Linked DNA regions of Homo sapiens: region 1 is linked to region 2. The links come from fine-mapping of genetic effects on gene expression. A gene starts in region 2. The other region holds a variant in brackets. All regions are shown on one strand. Distances are between the middles of the regions. Region 1 has its middle 27 kb from the start of C15orf39. Region 2 holds the start of SCAMP5 (secretory carrier membrane protein 5).

Region 1 (8,327 bases), 180 kb after region 2:
TCCCAGTTCCTTCCCATCTCCTGTTTCTCATAGGTCAGGTTTCACCTGGCAGGTGCGGGGAGCTAACTCATCCATACTTTTGTGTTTCATCACCGAACTCCTCAGTAGCCAGTTTCATACCTTTTTTGATGTGGAATGTTATCCAGTTCTAAAAACGGAGGAGTGACCTGGCACTGGTCTTATGCCAATCAAGAGAAATGAAGCAGATTGCTGGGGGAATCTGAACAGGCACCCAGGGTTTGCATCTCCAGTTTTTGGGGCTCCAAAATTTTGGAGTTCCACAAATTACTCTGAGGCCAGTAGAGGTTGGTGTAATGAGTTCATCATGGGTTGACACACAGTTTCTCCATCTATGAAATGAGGGGGCTGGCTAAGGATGAGCTTCCTCCACATCGCCACCGTCCCTGCCCCCCACAGTTCTGTTTCCTGGGGAAGAAGGCCAGCAAAGGCCCAGCACAGTCACCTACTTTTCCCTACCATGTCGCCACAAACCACTCTCTCAACACAGCCCGCCAAGGCCCAAGAGTTCCATCCACATTTCCCAGTACCACATCCTGTGTACCAGAAAAAGCACACAGAAGTGAGTCAGACCTTCTCTCTACTATCTGATTGCTAATGATAATAATAGCCACCCTGTTTCCATCCTGTGGTATTGAGCGCCAGCTCTGTGTCCAACATCTACACATGAACATAAACACAGGCAACTTGTTTAATACTCAACTCAATCCTGAAGATATGCATCATGTTCCCATTTTACACATGGAGAAAGTGAGGCTCAGATACGCCCTGGGATTTGCCCAAAATCACTAAGGAGTACACAGGGCCAGGTTTAGACTCAAACAGCCTATGGTTTGAGTTTCTCTCTTATTTTTTTCTTTTTTTTTGAGACAGGGTCTCGCTCTGTTGCCCAGGCTGGAGTACAGTGGCATGGCCACGGCTCACTGCAACTTTGACCTCTCAGGTTCAAGTGATCCCCCAGCCTTAGCCTCCCCAGTAGCTAGGACTACAGGCATGTGCCACCATGGCCGGCTAATTAAAAAAAAAAAATGTTTGTAGAGAGGGGGGCTCTCACTATGTTGCTTAGGCTGGTCTTCAACTCCTGGGCTCAAACAATCTTTCCAGCTTTAGCCTCCCAAAGTGCTGGGATTACAGGCATGCGCCATGGCGCCCAGCCTATGGTTTGAATTTCTGTGGGGAAACCTATAGAAGAACATGCTGGAGAAGGCCCACTATTCCTTCACCATGTGGCTTTTATCAACATGCCATGGAGGTGGTTTGTGTCCACTGCACCTGCACACACTTCAGGACAAGGTTCCCCGGCTGCTTCCTGCCTGTATGTCTGTATGTTTCTGTGAGTGCTGACCTGCCCCAGTGAGGCTCCTGCCCTTCTTTCACAATGCAACACAGTCCTGAGAGCCATGGGCTGGGCCTGGGCTCCCAGCAGCGGGATTACCATCTGGACAGAGCTGGGGGTATGCAGAGTGGGGCTGCTTGCATCAACAGGCTGTGGGGGCGTCTCGTCCTCTGCCCACATTTGCAGCCCTCTTCCCTGGTGAGACACCCCTTCCAGCAGCTGGCCCAGAGCATCTGGCCACTCCTGAGAAATGGAAACTATACCTTCCTGGACTGGGGCCAGCGTGGTTTGAGAAGCGCCCCTTTCAAATTCCCTTTGTCAGGAAGTTGATGCCTGGGCCATCACTCATTCATGTCAAGGGAATGATTATTCTTGATACATGGAAATATTTCTTAAGCCAAAAAGCTGTTGTTCTAGATTTACTAAAACTAGGTCAATAATTTGGCTTCAATCCCCAGGACAAATATCAGTATGGAGAAAACTTTTACAGTTGTGGGTATTCTCTAGACCAACGAATGCAACCAATTATACATTGCACAGATGGGCAGTGAATTGAGTGTTTCAAAATGTTATCTTTCACCTGTTTAGAAACAAAAGGTCAATTTTTGGAAAGTATTTCTCAAAAAGAGAAAAGCGGCACCATGCAGATATAAAAATGGAAGCAATGGTGCAGATGGTGGATGATAAATTTCTGTAACAAAGGCTGTATTTTTTTGTTTGACAAGTTTTTGCCAAGTTGCGTGCATGCTTCCCCAAAGTAGGGGAGATTTCTGAGGAGGGAGGTGAGTCACCTGGCCTTTACTTCCCTCAAGGCACCCAGGTTTCTCTAATGTGGGGACTAAAAGACTAAAGTTCCTAAGGAATGATCCTGCTGGGCCACTCTTTTTTTTTTTTTTTTTGAGATGGAGTCTCACTCTGTCACCCAGGCTGGAGTGCCGTGGTGCAATCTCGGCTCACTGCAACCTCCGCCTCCCGGGTTCAAGCAATTCTCCTGCCTTAGCCTCCTGAGTAGCTGGAATTATAGGTGCATGCCATCACGCCTGGCTAATTTTTGTATTTTTAGTAGAGACAGGGTTTCACCATGTTAATCAGGCTGGTCTCGATCTCCTGACCTCAGCTGATTCACCCGCCTCGGCCTCCCAAAGTGCTGGGATTACAAGCATGTGCCACCATGCCCAGCCAACCTGCCCACCCATTCTTATCTCACTTGGATAACACATATAGTAAGGCCCCCTTCAGTGCAGCCCACAGACAGAGCCCTGCACTTGGAAGGGCCCAACCAAGCTTGGTTGAATGCACTAGGACCAAGCAGTACTTTGAAATTCTTCGTAATTTAACTTTGAATTTGTCTTTTTTTTTTTTTTTTTTTTGAGACAGAGTCTTGCTCTGTCACCCAGGCTGGAGTGCAGTGGCGCAATCTTGGCTCACTGCAACCTCTGCCTCCTGGGTTCAAATGATTATCCTGCCTCAGCCTCTGAGTAGCTGGAGCTGGGATTACAGGCACGTGCCACCATGCCCGGCTAATTTTTGTATTTTCAGTAGAAACGGGGTTTCACCATCTTGGCCAGGCTGGTCTTGAACTCCTGACCTCAGGTGATCCACCTGTCTCGGCCTCCCAGAGTGCTGGGATTACAAGTGTAAGCCATCATGCCCAGCCAAATTTGTCTTTTGTAAGTGAAGTCCAATGGGGTCATGTAGCACGTGCTGAGGGCTTGGAATCTTGGCCTGAAGCATGGTCATGCCTCCTGCCACCTCCATGCTTCCCTGGAATGAGTTCTTGGCTATCCACTCCCTCAACCTCTGGTGCCCCAGTGCCACCCAGCCCCCTTGTCACCCCTGCCCTGCAACACTGCCACCCTTTGCTCCCTTGAGGGCCTGGGTGGGGGTGGGTGCGCCAGGGCCAAGTACATGCACCCCACAGTGTCAGAGCGGACAGGTGGTGGCCGTCCTGTCCCAGGCTGGCAGCAATATGCCATGTTCAGTGGGTGGCTTAGGGAGGGTGAGCCTCTCTCCACTCCTATCCCAGTCCCTAGTGCCTCCTGGCTACGAGGTTGGGACATAGTTGGGACTGTGGGCCTTTAGGAAGGGAAGATGCCTGCCTCTACTTCCCAATAAGTCTGTCTGGTGGCTGCTGGAACGGGGAGCCTGGTAGTTACTAGGTTCCACATGTGCCACCTCCCCGATCTGTGAAGGTCCGCTCTTGCCCTGTGCGTGTCCCGAGCTGGAGGGAGTAAGAACATTAAGTGTAAATTACCAAAAAACGCAACACCATGACAGGTTGTGAGAGGCATCATGGAAAAAAGGGAAGACATTCCCCCATGCATTTTGAACAGGGAACCTGCAATTTCATTTTGTATTGGGCCTTGCAAATTATATAGCAAATCCCACAGGCAGTGCTGTGTTGTGGCCTGCCAGCTCTCACTAGGTCACAGTTCACTTTCTGTGATGTCATGTTGGTAGCTTTGAAATGGCCACGGTGGGCCGGGCGCGGTAGCTCACGTCTATAATTCCAGCACTTTGGGAGGCTGAGGCTGGTGGATCATCTGATGTCAGGAGTTCGAGACCAGCCTGGCCAATGTGGCGAACCCGTCTCTACTAAAATACGAAAATTAGCTGGGTGTGGTGGTGGACGCTTGTAGTCCCAGCTACTCAGCAGGCTGAGGCAGGAGAATAGCTTGAACCCAGGAGGTTGAGGTTGGAGTAAGCCAAGATCTTGCCATTGCACTCCGGCCTAGGCAACAAGAGCGAAACTTGTCTCAGAAAAAAAGAAAAAAAGAAATGGCCATGGTGAGTATTAACAGCACGGAAATAGGGCAAACACTGCAAAACAGAACTTTTATTTTATTTTATTTTATTTTAGATGTAGTCTCACTCTATTGCCCAGGCTGGAGTGCGGTGGTGTGATCTCAGCTCACTGCAACCTCTGCCTCTCAGATTCAAGTGATTCTCCTGTCTCAGCCTTTTGAGTAGCTAGGACTACAGGTGCGTGCCACCTTGAACACCCAGCTAATTTTTGTATTTTTAGTAGAGATGGGGTTTCACCATATTGATCAGACTAGTCTTGAACTCCTGACCTCAGGTGATCCACCTGCCTCGGCCTCCCAGAATGCTGGGATTATAGGCATGAGCCACTG[C/T]GCCTGGCCTAGAACTTTAAAAAAATGTATGTAGAGCTGGTTTTTAACATTTACCAGCATAGCACTGTATAGAGTACCCAATAAAAGTCGGAAACTTCTTATCCTTGTTAATTTAATTGGTTAAATAGGGCAGGCCCAAACTTCTAGGAAGACAGTGCAGAGGCATGGAAGGAAGGCTAAGGAAGAAAACAGCTTAGTAAGTGCCAGGCACTGGTCCAAACCATTTCACCACCTTTTCAGGAATGAGGAAATAAGCTCAGAAAAGTAGTGGGACTCAACCAAAACCACACATCAGGCCAGCTACTGAGCTAACATTCGGACCCAATGTCCTAGCTCTTCTCACAGCAAAAGGAGAGGTGTTCTTTTTAAAACTAGAGATAGGGTCTCACTATGTTGCCCAGGTTGTTCTCAAACTCCTGGGCTTAAGCAATCCTCCTATCTTGGGCTCCCAAAGTGCTGGGATTACAGGCATGAGCCACCATGCCCAGAGAGGTTCTTTAGAGTCACATGTCTCTCTCTCTCTCTTCCTTTCCTTTCTTTCTTTTTTTTTCTTTTTTTTTCTTTCTTTCTTTTTTTTTTTTTTTGAAACGGAGTCTCACTCTGTTGCCCAGGCTGGAGTGCAATGGCACAATCTCGGCTCACTGGCAACCTCCACCTCCCAGGTTCAAGCAATTCTCCTGCCTTGCCCTCCCAAGTAGCTGGGACTATGACTATAGGCACATGCCACCACGCCTGGCTAATTTTTGTATTTTTAGTAGAGATGGGGTTTCACCACGTTGGCCAGGCTGGTCTCGAACTCCTGACCTCAGGTGATCCACCTGCCTTAGCCTCCCAAAGTGCACAGGGCCTCGCACAGGGTTCTGAACTCCAGGAATAAACTGGGGCTCAGGAGTAGGCAGGAGGGGGGCTGGCGAAGGACCTAGAAGTTCCCACCCTGGGCTCTTGATCTCTTGCAGTAACTTCACAGCCTGAGGCAGAAGCCTAGATGAATGAGAAGCAGGACAGAATGTTCCAGCAGCCACCAACTAGAGCAGAGACACAAATATTTACTAAGCCTAGGGGCCTCCCCAACATGCCGGCAGAGTTGGAGGGAACAAGTGTATGAGGCCTCTCTCTGTAAGGGCAGGGAATACATGGCAGGGAGAAGCCCCATGGAGAGGTCTCCCCTGACTCCAGCCTATCCGTCACATTGGTATATGAGTCCCTCACACCCTCAAGTATGTAAAGCCAGTCACAAAGCACCTTCTCAGCCATGGGCAGCGTGGGGAGCTGATCTCCATCTTATAAATGAGGAAACTGAGGCCCACAGAGGGAAGATAACATACCCAAAGCCAGAGGGCTGGGAAATGCTAGAGTCTGCAGTGGAAGGCTGGACTGGAAATGCTGCCCCCAATACCAGTAGTCTCCAATCCTGCATCTGCCCACCACACCCCCTCCCCAGGAACTTCTCTTGACCCTGGCTGGCCTCCTCCCTGACTGACCCCCAGACCCTCTTCTTTGGTGAGATCTTTTGCACCCTTACTTCCTGCAGCTCCCGGGCTGTTCTCTTCCCAGGTTAACCTCCCCTTTCTTCTTTTTTTTGAGACAAGGTCTCACTCTGTCACCCAGACAGGAGTGCAGTGGCACGATCATGGCTCATTACAGCCTTGACCTCCAGGGCCCAAGCAATCCTCCCATGTCAGCCTCTCAGGTAGCTGGGACCACAGGCATGTGCCACATTTTTAATTTTTGGTAGAGATGGTGGTCTCACTATATTGCCCAAACTGGTCTGAAACAATCCCCTTCCCCAGCCTCCCAAAGTGCTGGGATTACAGGTGAGTGCTATCCCACCCAGCCCATCCCCTTTCTTCCTATTTCCCACCTCAGAGAAGCCTTCTCACCTCACACCTCTCTCTCCAAATCGTGCCCCTCCTCCCTCATCTAGCTGAGGCCTGGCCTCTTATCCAGGAAGCCCTCCTGGACTGCTCCCAGTTACAGGGCTCTTGGGCTCTCAAGATTGCATGAAGTATGTTCATATTGTACTGTCTATTTAAAAAAAAAAAAGCGCATGAGAGACTAGCACACGGGTTTAGGTCCTAGTTGCAGCTGTCGCCAACTTCCTAGGGTGACCTCAGGCTCCCCTGCTCTCTCTGAGCCTCAGCTCCCTCATCTGTAGGCAGCCTGCCTGCCTCACCAGGGAATGGAGAGTCTAGATGAGAAAACCCTGGCAGTGGGCACAGGTCACAGCTGTTGGGGTTTTTGCTGGCATCAGCATTGCACCCTCTAGATCTGTTCCCATCCATTACCATCTGGCCACACACTGCCTTGTTCTTGCTCTCCCCTAGGGGTGGGAGGCCTGTGTCTGGCTGGAGAGCCCAGTTCGAGAGGGTGCTGTGTGTGCAGGGAGCCCTGCTGTTCCCCACTGGCCCCAGTGAGCCAGGCCCTGGCTTGGGGCTGGAAAGAGCCCAGGACTGGGAATCGCTGCCCTAAGTGAGGAGCCCCAACCCCTAAGCAGTTCTGCCCTTCAGCCCTTCAGGGTGTTAACTTTGCCTAGCCAAGAGCAAACTCTCTTTCTCTGTGCCAGGAGTAGTAGAGCCCCTGGGAAATGCTGTTTTTGTCCCCTGAGGCAGACTTTTGGGGAGTCCAAAAAAGGGCTCCCCACGGTGCCGGCTATCACAGAACAGGAGACAGGAGCAGGAGACAGGCCGGGAAGATGCGGCGACTGGGGGACCGGATAGGAGGGCCCTTGTCCTGAGGCTGCGTAGGCATAGCAAGCTCCGGGATTTTACTTCGTTGGAATGTTCTTTTGAGCTACTTTGGGGGCCGTGACTGAGAGAGCTCGTGGGGGACTCAGGCCCTTTCAGAGTCACCCGTGTGGCTCGGCCACTGCGCCAGGTCTTGGAACATCTAAGGCAGAAACAGGACCAACACCCGCAAGCCTCCAACAGCCCCTGGGGCTCCGTCCAGCCGTTGGGGTGGAGGGGTTGGGGGGAGGTGCAGGGGCGGGCACTGTGGGGGGTGGGGCGGGGCCGGTGGCCGCGACTCCACCCCGCGCCCCTAGTCGAGTAAACAAGCCACGGGCGGCGCCTGGGGGCCGCTCCTGCAAGCCGGGGCGCTGGGTTACATCACGGTTCCCTGGAGACTCCCGCCCCAGCGGCCGGGTCCCTGAGGCCCGCGCCCGCCCGCCGCCTGTGTCCGAGAAGCAGAGAGCTGGCAAGGGCCCGCCAGGGCGGGAAGGCTCCCACGTTTTCTCCGGAGGCCCCTGGGACTTTGTTGCAATTGGGTTCAGCCCGGGCATGGGCTGAACGTGGACGCGCGGGAACCGCGCCTCGGTTTCCCCATCTGTGAAACCTGGAGGCTGTATTAGGATTCTGTGCCTCCTATTAGGATTCAGCTGGGGGAAGGAGAGCGGCAGCCAGGGCCAGGGCCAGGGCCAGTCCCAGGCAGGCTGTGACTGGAGCCGGGCTTTCTACGTTAGGGTTTTGGTGGGTACCCGCTCAGCCACGTGCCAGAATGCACCCTCCCTCTGAGGGGACATGGAGACCACTCGCTGGGCCAAGGCACAGCAAGGACGACCTTGTATCCTAGCATTCTCCTGTCCCCACTTGCTGCTGGACACGGACCCTCTAGGTAAAATTCAACAATAGTTCCTGCCAGCCACCCTCACGGCGGGTTTGTGCCAGTGCTTTGGGAAAGATGTTGGGTTGCCCACTTAGGCGGGAGGGAGATTTCTGCTCAACATCAACAACTCAATCTACCACGGAGCCTGAGCCACTGGTCTGGAGGAAGCTGCGGGGGAGGCAGGGGTCGTGGGCACCCAGCTTGGGGACACTCAAGCAGAGTACGGGCTAGGCACGGGG
Region 2 (8,327 bases):
GGTGCCAGGAACAGCTCTCAACTAATGAAGAAATCATCAGTGTCATCACTCCTTCAGTGGGATGAGTACCTTGTCTTCTTCACTCTCCCAGAGATGCCCAATACAGTCAAGCCCCATTTGTCCACAGTGGTAATCTGCTGATTATTGCACCCTATATTGCTTTTCTTCATTTGTTTGTTTCACTCCCCCTCTCTCCTACTAGTGCTCCACGGAATCATCTCTCAAATGGACCATTTATATGAACATCCTTATCTCAGTGTCTGCCTCTGGGGATACCCAGCCTAAAGATAGTGGTTCTTTTATTTCTTAGATCTATCCATCCAATTTCCTTGGGCAGATCACTTTACCTCTCTGAATTTCACTTGGCTCATCTATAGAATATGGATAGTATCACTTCTTTCTTTCTTTCTTTTTTTTTTTTTTTGAGACCGAGTCTCGCTCTGTCGCCCAGGCTGGAGTGCAGTGGCGGGATCTCGGCTCACTGCAAGCTCCGCCTCCTGGGTTCATGCCATTCTCCTGCCTCAGCCTCCCAGCAGCTGGGACTACAGGCACACGCTCTCATGCTCGGCTAATTTTTTGTATTTTCAGTAGAGACCGGGTTTCACCGTATTAGCCAGGATGGTCTCGATCTCTTGACCTTGTGATTCACCCGCCTTGGCCTCCCAAAGTGCTGGGATTAGAGGTGTGAGCCACTGCGCCCGGCCCAATAGCACTTATTTCTTAGGATGGTCATGCAGTTTAGCATTTCACTCAGACATTAAAAGTTCAGTAAATACTTCTATTTTTATTCGTTTACTGGCCTGTAACATAAATATTCTCCCAGAGACTCTTGGATGGACATGCCTCATTCAGGCATAGCTAGGCAGGGAAAGATAAGCAGCCTGGAGCTGGCCCTGTGGGACATTGATTGATTGGGTTCCTGTTCCCAGTTACTTGCTCCCTCTGCAATGGGATTAAATGTCCCCACCATTTGTCATGTGACTTATCTGGCATCCTGTATGGGTAGCATACCTCCCTGACCCCCATGAATTAATTTTGGGCTTACCCATGTGACTTGCTTTGAGTAATGGCATATGAGCAGATGTGACATTCTCCACATCTGCAAAGAAGCTTGAAATGTGTTACTGCATGGTTTGGCACAGGCTCTCTCACCCCTGCCCTCCACTACAACAAAGACATGTCTCCAGTGCCTGCCACGCAGTTTGAGCTAGCACCTTTAAATACTTTATTTATTTATTTTTTTGAGAGGAAGTCTTGGTCTGTCGCCTAGGCTGGAGTGCAGTGGCGTCATCTAGGCTCACTGCAACCTCCACCTCCTGGGTTCAAGGGATTCTTGTGCCTCAGCCTCCTGAGTAGCTGGGATTACAGGTGCACACCACCATGGCTGGCTATTTCTGTATTTTTAGCAGAGATGAAGTTTCACCATGTTGGCCAGGCTGGTCTCGAACTCCTGACCTCAAGTGATTCGCCTGCCTTGGCCTCCCAAAGTGCTGGGATTATAGGCGTGACCCACCGTGCCTGGCTTAAATACTTTATTTTTAATTTTTAAAAATTGTTTTATCCATCTATTTACAGATCATTAAATACTTACTGTGTACCAGGCAGTCCCATATGTTACATGTGTCTGCATGTATTAATTCATTTCATCCTTGCAGGAACCCTAAGACACGGGTCCCATTATCACCATCCTTATTTTACATATGTGGAAAACTAAGGTTCAGTGAGGATTAGTACCTTCTCAAATTCACACTGCAGGGAAGGGGCAAGGTCTGCCTTCTAGGTTGATATTCTTAACCACTGCTGTATGCTTCTTCTCATGGTAGGTAACCAGCAAATGCCTATTAAGTAAACGTTTGTTTAAGTGATCATTGTTCCCTTCCATTTACCTGAATAGGAAAGGTACAATCTACTGGGACAAAGGTGGGCTTCTGACTTTGGACCTGCTCACTCTTCCTACGTTAGTTGTTTATCAAATAGGAGACCCTTCTGATTCTTCTGAGTGGAGAAAAATTGTCCGTGGTCATCAGACGGGAACCCCAATATTTCCCTTGTAGGACCTACATGAACCACAAGATATCTCCTATAAATTCCATGTGGTTTCCAGACATCTTCCTTGTGGATCCCAGTGTGGACCTCAGATCTCTCTCCTAAAGGCCTATGTGAACCCCTATATCTTTCCTGAGGCCCACATGGACTCCCAACATTTTCCCTGTAGCAGCCACACTTGATAACTTCGACAGGTTCCCAGTTGTCATCTCATTGGCTGCTCTCCACAGCTCTGTAAATCAGCCTTGGCTTGCATTATAGCAGGGAGAGACAGCATGTGGGTCAACCAGGGACAGGACTGACACAGAACCCAGTTGTCCTGCCCCGAAGCCCAGGACCCTTCCTTCCTGGTTGGCCTGGTGGCAGGATGATGCTTCCTGCTCAGCCCTTCCCAGGCACCGAGGCTCTCTCCCTCCTTTTCCCCTCTGCCACACTAGTTCTTGTCTGCCTTTTTTCACTGCCACCCCCTTTTCATGCCAGCTGTGGGAGTGAGGCCCCACTCCTGGCAGGATGGAGCCAGACAATGGGCCCTTATTCTAGGCAAAGAATCCCTGCAGTGTCTCCCACCCACTGAGGCCCCCTTCCAGGCCTAGGATGGTGTGGGTGGGGGGTGGAGGGTGGGTGTATGGTGTAGGGGAAGGAGCAATTGGCTGGCAGGACAGACAGTGGCCCTGGCCCTGCCTGTAGAGATCCCACGGAGGTTTACTATGTAAACACCAATCACAATAAAATCCTGTCTTCACTCCCAGCCCATCTCTCCAAGTGGGTCTCTCTCAACCCTCCAAAGCTCTGGGTTTTTAAACATTTACCCTTGCCTCTACTCTCTCTTGGTATTCATCTCTGCATATCACTGTCTCTTTCATTCCTTTTTCTGAGTCTCTTTCTTTTTCTAAGCCTCTCCTCTCTCTCTCTCTCTCTCTCTGCTCCTTTGCGTAATTTGTCTCTATTTCTTGCCTCTTTCTTGCTTCATTATGCTCCCTTACCTATCTTATCTTTCCATGTCTTTTTTCTCTCCAGGCCTTGAGCTCTCATCTCAGTCTCTCTCTCCGTGTGTCTCTGTCTCTGTTTGCAGCTCTTCTTTCTCGTCCTCCTATGTCGTCTTTCCGTGGATCTGTGTCCTTGCCTCTCTGAATATCATCTCCGATCTTCCGTCCTCTGTTCTCTCTTTCCCCCTGCGCCTGCAGATCTGAAGGACCTTCCGCAGTCACCACACTCTCCTGCTTTCAGCTCTTTCTCACTCCTTTCTGGCACGTCCCAGAGGCTCCTGGCATAGGTATAGGAGGTTATTCTCCCCAGTTTACAGATATGGAAGCTGAGGCTCTGGCTGCTGGTGCCAGGCTCCCATCTCTGGGTCTCTTCCTTCCACCTACACGCCAGGCTCTTGTCCCTGAGGTGCCCGTCAACCACCTGATCCGGCCGGGGCCCGGGAACTAGCACCTCGGACAGCTCCTGGAAGATGCCGGGGCGGCCGGGTCGTCCTTCTCGCGAGCTCAGGAGGAGCAGCCTTAGGAGCAGAGCGGAAGTCTCGCGAGAGTGACTGCTGCAGGCAGTGGCGGCGCGGGCGCGCGCAGAGACGGCCTCGGGCGCGCGCGCGCGCGCGCGCGCTCCCCGCCCCCAGCCCCGGAGCGGCTCGCGGCCGGCTCCGCGCCGCATCGCTCGGGTGCAGCGCAGCTCAGCGCAGCGCTGCGGCCTTTCGGCAGCCGAACGGCCGCGGCAGGTGAGTCTGGGCATGAAGGCTGGGAGGAGAGCTTTGAAGGGAAGCTGGGCGCGGGGCGAGAGGTGTGGGGGTCGCTGGCTGCAGCTTTGTTCCTCCTACACTTCACCTTTGGATGCAGGAAGAAGGCCGAACTGCTGGAGAGGTGGGAGTGGAGGTGACCTTTACTGTTTGGGGCTGGGGGAGAGCGCTCAGGGCGCACCCAGGCCCCCCGAGCCCCCCAAGCCCCCCCATTCCCATCTGTGGCTCCCGCAGAGGGAACTGGGCCTTTGGGTGACGTCAGACCCTGGATCTGGAGCCTGAGCTTTGGGCCCTCCATCCCCCCCGCCAGCCCCACCTGGCGTTCCCTGGAAACCGGCCTTCTGGAGATGGCGTGCGCAGCCGGGGATGGGGGCGACTGGAAGGGGGTGCCCGTGGCTTCCTTTGGGCCTTTCCTTCCAACTAGCGCCTGCAGGTGGACCCGGGTTGACTTCCCTCACCTCCCTCGGGCGGCCGACCTTTGGATGGCGGACCTCAGCCGCCCCAGGGTTGCGAGGCGACGGGCGCGCTGGCCCAGGCCACCAGGCGGGCTCCATCAGGGCTTTGGGTGGTGAGTTGGGGGCGCCGGATTTGGCTCATTTCAACGCTGGCCGGAGGTCACGAGGATGGAGGTGAGGTGTTTGTGAACCGATCCTTGTCCTCCGCCTCGGGGAGCTCCTGGTCTGTGGGTTGGGGGAACCAAGTAGAGACTCGGACTGAGCATTCACTGTCACAGGCGGCTTAAACAAGTAATGTCCCAGCTTCCCGATGGGGAGATCAGTGAGGGCCTGGCAGACTTTCCCAGGGACACAGAGAGAAAGGGAGGCGACAGCTAGCGAATAGGAGACTTCCAGAGGTGATGGGATTTGGGTGGGAGGAGAGGCAAGAGAGGGCATTCCAGGAGAATGTATGGGCAAAGGCACAGGGATGAAAACGAGCACAGCTGTTGGGGGCTGAGCCTGGGAGCTCAGCCATGTGACTGCCCATGGGGTGGTGGAGTCTGGAGAAATTTGCAACCTGTCCCCTACATGTTCTGCCTCACGGAGCAGGGCTCTGAAAGAGGGAGATGGTTCTTGCAGGGGCATGATTGGCAGAGAGATTTTGTTTGGGGCTACACAGGTCTTGCTAACTTAGGTTTGTTCTGGGCTTGGTGAGCCTTAGGGCAAAGTCTCTAGAGCTGAGAGGGGGCTGTCTCTGGTGAATGGGCCCCTGAAAGAGGGTCTTAGGTTTAGCAAACCCCTTGGAGAGTTAGTGGGGTCCCAGGAGGGGAGTTCTAGAGAGAGACCTTGGGCTCTGTGGCTGTTTCTTTAACCGTTTCCTGAGTGGCCACCTCCAAGCAAGTTCCCCAAGTCACCTCCCCTCTCTGGGCATCTCTTTCTAGCACCTTTCTCTAGAGATGAAATAATAGGACTAAGTAGTGACCTCCCTTGAGGATGCTCCTTGTTCTAGTTTAGAGCATCCCCCCTTTCTTCTCCCTCTTCCTTTTCCTTTCCTCCCCTATCCCTCTGCCTCCCTGTCCCTATCCCCACCCCTTGCCCCCCACAGCATTTCCTTTACAGGCTGCACTTCCTTCCCTGCTGCCAGCCAGGAGTTTCGGAAGGTTTCCTGGAGGAAGTGTGATACAGCAGGTTTGACAGCAGCTTTGGGCTTAATCTGATTGGGGGAGGGCGTTAATTGCCTCCCTCCCACCCATTGGGAAAGTGTCCAAGTCTTAAGCAAGTATATGGATTGACTGTGCTCTGTGCTGGGTCCCTCCTGGAAACTCCATCCAGGAGGGAGTGAGGAGATTATGGGAGAAGACGTGAACACTTAGTGCCCAATGACTGACTCAAAATGTATGCAGCGGGATGCAGAGCAGCGATTTTTGGAAAGGCTTCCCAGAAGGGGTGGGATGTGAGAAGGTAGCAGGACTTAGAGGAGCTGATAGTGCTGCCAATTTAGGGGCACTGGAAGCAGAGGGGGCGGCTAGAGATGATCTCCTGCATGAGGCTGGGAGTGTAGGAGGCAGGTCAACCTGTGAGCAGCCAAAGGTGGTGGGAGGGAGGTTTGTAGCTGACTGGCACAAAGCCTTGAATGCCAGGCAAAGATCTGTAGGAGGCTACTGAATAGTCATCAGTAGGACAGGGACAGCATGGCCAGGAGACTGCTGTTTTCTGAGGATTATTCATAGTTCTGGGATTTCAGGGCAGAAGATGGGGCTAGGAGTGGGATGAGGGGATTGGAGGTAGAGCAGGAGGGGGAAACTTCCATCTTAGCAGGTTGGCTCTGGGCAGCAAAAAGGAATCACCATTTCTGTGCCAGGGATGAGGGGCCCATACTGGTGAGCAGGGAGCCCTGGAGTTAGCCCCAGGACTCTGGCCTGATCTGAAGCCAGGCTTGACCCTCGTCTGCTGCCAGAGGCCTCAGTCTCCCCACTGTGGGGGCTTCTGTCCTAGCTTCACAATAAGGAATGGAATACATTATAGTTAGGGTTTCATGAACAAAATTCAGGTAGTAACTGCTATCTTATTGATAATTAAGGTGTTTCCCTAGGCCTACATCTTTGGAGGGATATGTAGCCCTTATCCCCATTATAAAAGATTATCAGTTGAGCAGATTGCTAATTCTTCTGTTTTGTAGTCTAAGAACTTTGGTTTGGCCGGCGCGGTGGCTCATGCCTGTAATCCCAGCACTTGGGGAGGCCGAGGCGGGTGGATCACCTGAGGTCAGGAGTTCGAGACCAGCCTGGCCAACATGGTGAAACCGTGTCTCTAGTAAAAATACAAAAATTAGCCAGGCATGGTGGTGCACGCCTGTAATCCCAGTTACTAGGGAAGCTGAGGCAGGAGAATAGTTCGAACTTGGGTGGAGGAGGTTGTAGTTAGCTGAGATCGTGCCACTGCACTCCAGCCTGGGCAACAGAGTGAAACTCCATCTCAAAAAAAAAAAAAAAAAGAACTTTGGTTTGCAGAGGCCAGTGATTGCTGTCTTCCCCTCCAACCCCCCACCCCCCATTTCAAAGGCTTCCCAGAAACAAGGGCAGAGAAGCCTGGAGCCTTCCATTTCTGTGACCCTAGTCTTTTACCACCCTCTCAAGCCCCAGATTCTCTCTGCCCTAACCTTTATATACAAACAAGGCAGCTTTGCCCTCTGCTCTGGTTTCTGCTCTGAATTATTCATACTTTGCTGCACTGACTTCTCTGGAACTGTAAGCAGACTTTTGGGAGATTGTCTGGGACCAGGGACAGGGGTTAGGCTGGAGCCCGGTTAGGGAGAAGACTCCTCCTTTGAGGCCCCTATGTTCTAGTTGTTTTCTCCTCTCCCTCTGCTTCCTTGTTTTCCTGGAGGTCTTTAGTGCTGGACCACAGTCTCCCACTCCATGTCCCATTGTCTCAGGGGAGGTAGTGCCTCTTTCAGTCACCATTTTAACCAACTACATCTGAATGTGGTCCTCATTGGCATGTGGCCACCTCTGAAATCTTAAACTCTAGTATTTCTCTCTGACCACAGTCTAACTAATGCTTTATGTGCTCTGACCTCAAGGAGACCTCTAGTTCTCAGACACCTCCATTTTCTCCATCTCATGAATTGCCTCTTCCGTGTTCTTTCTGAACTCCATGCCCTCAACCACTTTGCCACTTTGCCTGTGTGTCACCCGAGCTGCCAGGAAGGGTCTCCAGTCTCAGCCATCCCTTCATCACTTATAGAAACCCCTCTCCTCATTCCCATCAGTTCCCCTTTCTATTCCATGGGAGGAGTATTCCAAACTGGACTACTCTCCCCAGGCCCTTTGCTCATGTAGAGGGTGGTTGGGGTGTGTGTGGGGGAGGTGGAACCACCCCCATGTTTTCCCGAGGCGGAGCTTGCAGTGAGCCGAGATCGCACCACTGCCCTCCAGCCTGGGCGACAGAGCGAGACTCCATCTCAAAACAAAAACAAAAACAAAAACAAACCAAACAAAAACAAAAATAAAAAAACACAAAAGTTAGCCAGGCATGGTGGTGCGCACCTGTAGTCCCAGCTACTCGGGAGGCTGAGGCAGGGGAATTGCTTGAACCCAGGAGACGGAGGTTGCAGTGGGCCGAGATCGCGCCACTGCACTCCAGCCTGCTGACAGAGAGAGACGCTGTCTCAAAAATAAATAAATAAAATAAAACACTTCCTGATTGCCATATCAACTTGTCACCTGACTGCTTCATGGCCATGGATATTGTTGACCCAGTCGACCAGTCATTAAAAAGATTGAGATAGATCTGTATTCATTAACATGAAAAACTTTCACGAGATATTGTTGAGTGGAAAAAAACAGGTTATAAAACAGGATGTGTGGAATGATCTCATTTTTGTCATATATGATTCTATATACGTTAAAAATGAAAGCCAACAAAATCCACCAAACCTAAAGATCAGACTGTTAAAGGGGTGGCATCTGAGAAAGTGGATTTTGGGAAGACTTTTCTACTTTATGCACTTAGATTTTTTTTTTAATTGCATATATTTTTACAGATAGCTAAAAAGCAACATATTAATTAACTAATTAGTTTAGAGATGAGGTCTCACTATGTTGTCC

Evidence for each region. PIP is the estimated chance that this variant, and not a neighbour inherited with it, causes the effect. A credible set is the group of variants that fine-mapping cannot tell apart.
Region 1: its variant is the best candidate, but not a certain one, in a credible set for the expression of SCAMP5 in whole blood (INTERVAL, PIP 0.61).

The regions. Positions count from the first base shown.
Region 1 is chr15:75,171,080-75,179,406 of GRCh38, forward strand. No RefSeq gene overlaps it. Among named protein-coding and RNA genes, the nearest start is that of C15orf39, 27 kb to the right of the region's middle. RefSeq lists enhancers at 6,338-6,897, 6,454-6,553. The variant C/T (reference allele first, on the strand shown) is at 4,489.
Region 2 is chr15:74,991,911-75,000,237 of GRCh38, forward strand. SCAMP5 (secretory carrier membrane protein 5) reads left to right here and starts at 3,653. Exons shown (of 7, transcript NM_138967.4): 1 at 3,653-3,763.